Regions from separate parts of the Homo sapiens genome. Here region 1 is linked to region 2. The links come from fine-mapping of genetic effects on plasma protein levels. Region 2 holds a variant in brackets. A gene starts in the other region. All regions are shown on their reverse strands. Region 1 holds the start of PLAU (plasminogen activator, urokinase). Region 2 overlaps PLAUR (plasminogen activator, urokinase receptor).

The links. PIP is the chance, under the fine-mapping model, that this variant and not a neighbour inherited with it causes the effect. The UK Biobank Pharma Proteomics Project read protein levels with antibody pairs (Olink). The fine-mapping took linkage between variants from a reference panel, not from the people measured, so its PIPs are less certain.
Region 1: it holds the start of PLAU, and the variant in region 2 is fine-mapped to the plasma level of the PLAU protein (UK Biobank, PIP above 0.99).

What each region holds. Positions count from the first base shown.
Region 1 is chr10:73,909,486-73,912,385 of GRCh38, reverse strand. It overlaps PLAU (plasminogen activator, urokinase), which reads right to left and starts at 1,254. Exons shown (of 11, transcript NM_002658.6): 1 at 1,168-1,254; 2 at 774-861; 3 at 318-345; 4 at 64-171. The coding sequence starts at 830. It overlaps C10orf55 (chromosome 10 putative open reading frame 55), which reads left to right. Exons shown (of 5, transcript NR_160938.1): 4 at 102-186; 5 at 291-2,417. RefSeq lists a silencer at 708-1,307 and enhancers at 2,273-2,900, 2,579-2,900.
Region 2 is chr19:43,647,633-43,650,532 of GRCh38, reverse strand. PLAUR (plasminogen activator, urokinase receptor) reads left to right here. Exons shown (of 7, transcript NM_002659.4): 7 at 1,390-1,954. The coding sequence ends at 1,643. Among named protein-coding and RNA genes, the nearest start is that of CADM4, 9.2 kb to the right of the region's middle. The variant A/G (reference allele first, on the strand shown) is at 1,437.

The DNA of each region.
Region 1 (2,900 bases), not on the chromosome of region 2:
GCCTCCCACCCATCCCTCCCTGTCCCCAAATTTCTCTCCCAGTTGCAGTGGAGATCCCCATACCTATTTCACAGTGCTGCCCTCCGAATTTCTTTGGGCAGTTGCACCAGTGAATGTTGGAGAAGTACTTGTTGGACACACATGTTCCTCCATTTAGACAGTCACAGTTCGCTGGAGAGAACAAAGGTGGGGTAAGCGAGGGGGAGTGGAAGTGGTAAGGGGTGGCGCAGCCCTGCAGCAGAGGGCAGGGAGGGGATGTCCCCTGAAGCCTTCCCAACTTGTCTGTGCAGCCAACTGTTGTAGGGGTGGATACTCACATGGAACTTGATGAAGTTCATTGCTGCCCTGGAAGAGATTCGGGAGGAGGCTTCATCAAAGGTCCCATGCTCCAGGGACTCCAGGGTGAGGGTAAACTGGCCCCAATCCCAAAACCCACTCTTCCCTCTCCCTCTCGCCTCACCCTGTTCGTATCTAGTTCTCAAATGGAAGACCATGGGTTTCCAGCCAGGAGAAATGGATTGACCCAAGCAAGCTTCATCTACCAGATGCCCGCAGGCTGGGGCAGTCCCGGCGGCCTCTTCCTCCCTTGCCAGCCAGTGCCAACCCCCGTGGTTCTCAAGCCTCCGCTGCCACCCTGTCCCATTTCCTGGGGAGAGTCTGGCCCTGCTGTGGATGGAATCCGGAGGACCCCAGCTCCCTGAGCAGCCCCTCCTCTCCCCTGGTGCTGATCAGAGGTCCTTGGGCAGCATCAGTCAAAGCAAGAGCGCACTCACTTTGGAGTCGCTCACGACCAGGACGCAGAGAAGCAGGCGCGCCAGCAGGGCTCTCATGGTGGCGAGGTCGGGGCGCTAGACGGCGGCTCTGCAAAGGAAGGAGAAGTCAGGGCAAGAGGCGGAGGAACGGGAAGGCAGGCCAGGCGGGCGACTGCAGCGCAGGGGAGATGCCCGCGGTGACCAGGCTCCCCAGCTGTCTCTCTCCTCTCTGGGCTCCGGACTCCGGGCAGCCTGGATCGGCACCCGCGGGGGACGCCCGGGACGGGGCGCCTTGACTCCGTGCAGCCGCCGGGGAGCCCAGGGAGCCCGGGCAGCCCAGGGCGGGGGAGGCAGACGCTCGGGAGCTGGGGCCGCCGCGCATCCGGCCCGGGGATCTCAGGACCGCGGCACTCACCGGTGGCTGCGGCAGGAGGGCGCGAGCCGGCGCTGCGGGGACAGGTGGACCCTGGCCCGGGCTCCGGGGCTGCGGTCTCCGCACTGTGCTGCGACCCGCGGCGCCTGCTCTATATCAGGGCCCGCCCCGGCGCCGCCCCTCCCTCTCCCGCCCGGCTCCCTCCCCTGTCTTGCAGCGCTCAGCGACCCGGACCCCGCGTGCTTCCGCAACGCTCACAAAGATTTGGGGGAAGCGCGATCTCCAGCGGAGGGGACCCAACAGCGTCTGGACTGAGGAATCGAGAGGCTTGTAAATTCTCCGTGCTTCCTCCCATGCACCTGGCCGGGGGCCTGCCCCAGTGCAAGGAGTCCCCGAATTGCAGAGAGGAGAGAAGGCGCACAGGAGACTCTCTACCTCGCCCAGCTCTGAAGCCTCCTGGGGTCCTCTAATCAGTTCTTCTGCAACTTCTCCCCGCTGGGCCCCAACTTGCCTAAGACTGCCTCAGACCCCCTTGCCCGCAGCTGATGGAGCTGTGAAGTCTTCATCAACGCGACAAATGTACGAGACATACTCTCCCAGAAGCACAGACAGAAAAACCCCTGCCTGTAGGGGCTCCCTCTGTGCGTCTGTTCAGTGGCAGTCCCCAGATATCACCAACACAACCAGTGGATGGAACAAAGCCGGGCTTATTGCTTTCGGCAGTAAGGGGGTTTGTTTGATGGTGCTATCAGAGGGGGAAAGGCAAGGCCAGATTACTGAAAATTTGCAGCTTGGTTTAAAGTCCGTTTTTGACAGGGCTTGATAAGGATTGGGTTAGGTGTCGTGATATGATGTTACAGGATTGTGGGAACAAAGTCCTAGGGCATAAACTGTTGGTGCTTCCTATTGAAGTGTTAACGGGTCTTTTGGGAAGTTTCCATAATGAGCAATTCATTTATTTGTGCAGGCAAGAATAAAAGTAAAGACAATGGAAACATGTAGACAGTTCTAACTGTGGAGGTTCTGGAGGGTGTGGAAGTTCTGTTCTCACCTCTGAGTAGAGGAATTGGGAGACTGGAGGACAAAATAAGAGGAAGATTTATTTTTCACTGTTTGTCCTTTTACACTCTTAACATTTTAAAAAGCACATCTCTGTATAGCCCATTCCAAAAAGATAATTATGCATTTTTTAATGCATGTGTATTTAGTGTTTTACTTCATCATAGAGCCTTGTTTATTCTATTCAGATAGAAACAATTGTTTATCAAATAAAATTGTCCTCCAGAAAAACAGACCATGTGTAAATGACTGCATCCACCCTTCCTGCCTGAGGATAAGCAGACATTTGTGTATACACACACACACACACACGCATCTCTGGGCACACTTGGAGGAACATAGCAGGGATTCTGTGATTCTGTCACCCCCATCTCTTTCCCCTAGTGTCAGGAACCAGGGCTTGGGGTCATTTTGAACCCAGTAGGACTCGCTCTCTTAGTGGGAAGGAGGAGGCTGAGTCCCAGCAATCCACTAGCGGCTTTGGGCCCTTTCCCAGCCTAGGCCTGCAGCATTTTCCTGCCTTGCAAATCTGGACCTTGGGTCTGGGTCCACCTGAGAGTGACAGAAGGAAGGCAGGGAGAGTGCCAGGAAGGTAGGAAGGAGGAAGGCTCCTTTGCTCTGCCCCAGCCGAGGGCTCAGGGTGCCAGCTGCCTGCTGGGGAAAGTACAAGTTAGCCTTTCAGCTTTTGGGAGGCAGGTGACCCACTGTCTTCTGGA
Region 2 (2,900 bases):
GCAACATAGCAAGATCCTGTCTCTACAGAAAATACAAAAGTTAGCTGGGCATGGTGGTGCATGCCTGTAGTCCCAGCTGCTTGGGAGGCTGAGGTGGGAGGGTCACTTGAGCCTGGGAGGTGGAGGTTGCAGTGAACGGAGATTGCACCACTGCACTGCGGCCTGGGCAACAGAGCGAGACCCTGTCTTAAAAAAACAAACAAAGAAACAACAAAAAAAAAACCAGCCAGGCGCGGTGGCTCACGCCTGTAATACCAGCACTTTGGGAGGCCAAGGCGGGCAGATCACAAGGTCAGGAGTTCGAGACCAGCCTGGCCAATATGGTGAAACCCCGTCTCTACTAGAAATACAAAAATTAGCTGGGCATGGTGGTCGCGCCTGTAGTCCCAGCTACTTGGGAGGCTGAGGCAGAAGAATTGCTTGAACCCGGGAGGCAGAGGTTGCAGTGAGCCGAGATCGTGCCACTGCACTCCAGCCTGGGTGACAGAGTGAGACTCCATCTCAAAAAAAAAAACAAAAAAAAAGCGTAATGAGAAAACTGGCATTATTTTGCTGTGTTGCACATCTCTTTAATGTCCAGCTTAATAGAAGACAGCTGGGTCCTCATGGAAGCTTCTGCTTTCAGTCTCTTGCAATATCACATGTCCTGGAGTTTTTGGAAAAGCCCATTGTACACTTATGAGAGTGAAAAAGCCATGTGAAATCACAGATCTCCTGAAAGGGTCTCTGGGGTCCCTGAGCCACACTTTAAGAACCGCTGCTCGCTTCCTTTCTTTCTTTTTTTTTCTTTCCTTTTCTTTCTCTGTCTCTCTTTCCCTTTCTTTCTTTCTTTCTTCCTTCCTTCCTCCCTTCCTTCCTTCTTTCCCTTCTCCTTCCTTCCTTCCTCCCTCTCTCTCTCTTTCTTTCTTTTCTTTCCCTTCTTCCCTTCCTCCCTTCCTTCTTCCCTCCCTCCCTCCCTCCCTTCCTTCCTTTCTTTCTTTTTATTTGTTTTTTGAAACAGGGTCTCACTCTGTTACCCAGGCTGGAGTGCAGTGGCGTGATCATAACTCACCACAGCCTCCATCTCCTGAGCTCAAGTGATCCTCTCATCTCAGCCTCCCAAGTAGCTGGGACTACAGCTGTTTTTTTCTTTTTTATGTTTGTAGAAACAGAGTTTTGCTATGTTGTCCAGGCTGGTCTGGAACTCCTGGGCTCAAGCTATCCTCTCTCCTTGGCTTCCCAAGGTGTTGAGATTACAGGCATGAGCCACCACACCTGGCCCTGAGAACTGCTGCTTTCTCTAGGTGGTAGTGAAGGTGGCACCCACTGCAAGGTGGCAGGTCACCTACTGGAGAATTCCAGTCCTGGGCCCAGGAGCTGGAAGTCTCACTCCGTCTTCTCTTTCCTCAGAACCGAAAAACCAAAGCTATATGGTAAGAGGCTGTGCAACCGCCTCA[A/G]TGTGCCAACATGCCCACCTGGGTGACGCCTTCAGCATGAACCACATTGATGTCTCCTGCTGTACTAAAAGTGGCTGTAACCACCCAGACCTGGATGTCCAGTACCGCAGTGGGGCTGCTCCTCAGCCTGGCCCTGCCCATCTCAGCCTCACCATCACCCTGCTAATGACTGCCAGACTGTGGGGAGGCACTCTCCTCTGGACCTAAACCTGAAATCCCCCTCTCTGCCCTGGCTGGATCCGGGGGACCCCTTTGCCCTTCCCTCGGCTCCCAGCCCTACAGACTTGCTGTGTGACCTCAGGCCAGTGTGCCGACCTCTCTGGGCCTCAGTTTTCCCAGCTATGAAAACAGCTATCTCACAAAGTTGTGTGAAGCAGAAGAGAAAAGCTGGAGGAAGGCCGTGGGCCAATGGGAGAGCTCTTGTTATTATTAATATTGTTGCCGCTGTTGTGTTGTTGTTATTAATTAATATTCATATTATTTATTTTATACTTACATAAAGATTTTGTACCAGTGGACAAGGCCAGGTATGCCCTTCTTTGTAGTGTCTATCTTTGGGAGGATAAATGGTGGGGGACACCTTTTCACAGGCTCCTGGAATCAGGGGTCATGTTTGAGGCCCCTGCCTAGGTTGGAAGTCCTCCTGGGGGCTGCCTCCACATCTATTTCTGGACTCCAAATGCTGACAGAGCAGGAGCACTGCCATCTTGAACAAACACCACCATTCTTAGTTCCTCTTGATTAAAAATCGGCTAAATCCGGACGTGGTGGCGGGTGCCTGTAGTCCCAGCTATTCGGGAGGCTGAGGCAGGAGAATGGCGTCAATCCGGGAGGTGGAGCTTGCAGTGAGCCGAGATTGCACCACTGCACTCCAGCCTGGGTGACAGAGCAAGACTCTGTCTCAAAAAAAAATCAGCTAAATCCAGCCCCAAAACATCAGCCTAATGGCTACCATCAGCATAACCAGAAACATTCCAACCCTAAGATAAACCCCTCTCTGACCAGAAACATGCCAACCCCCAGATAGCCTCCCTTCCGACCAGAGACTTTCCAACCCCACAATAAACTTTTCCTCACATGAAAACATTCCGAACCTAGATAAGCACCCCCTTCCAAAACTCTTAAATATCCTTAGTCTGTAAAAAAAAAAAAAAAAAAGGGCTCTCTAACCTAACTCAGCCAAAAGCCCCCCTCAGGTTGGTTTTCTCTAAAATAAACCTGTCCTTCACCGTCAAGCCACATTTCATGTTTCTTTCCTTTTCCTTTTTCTTTTCTTTTCTTTTCTTTTTTTGAGATGGAGTTTCACTCTTGTTGCCCAGGCTGGAGTGCAATGACACAATCTCAGCTCACCACAACCTCCACCTCCTAGTTCAAGGGATTCTCCTGCCTCAGCCTCCCAAGTAGCTGGGATTACAGGCATGCACCACCACACCCGGCTAATTTTGTATTTTTAGTAGAGACAGG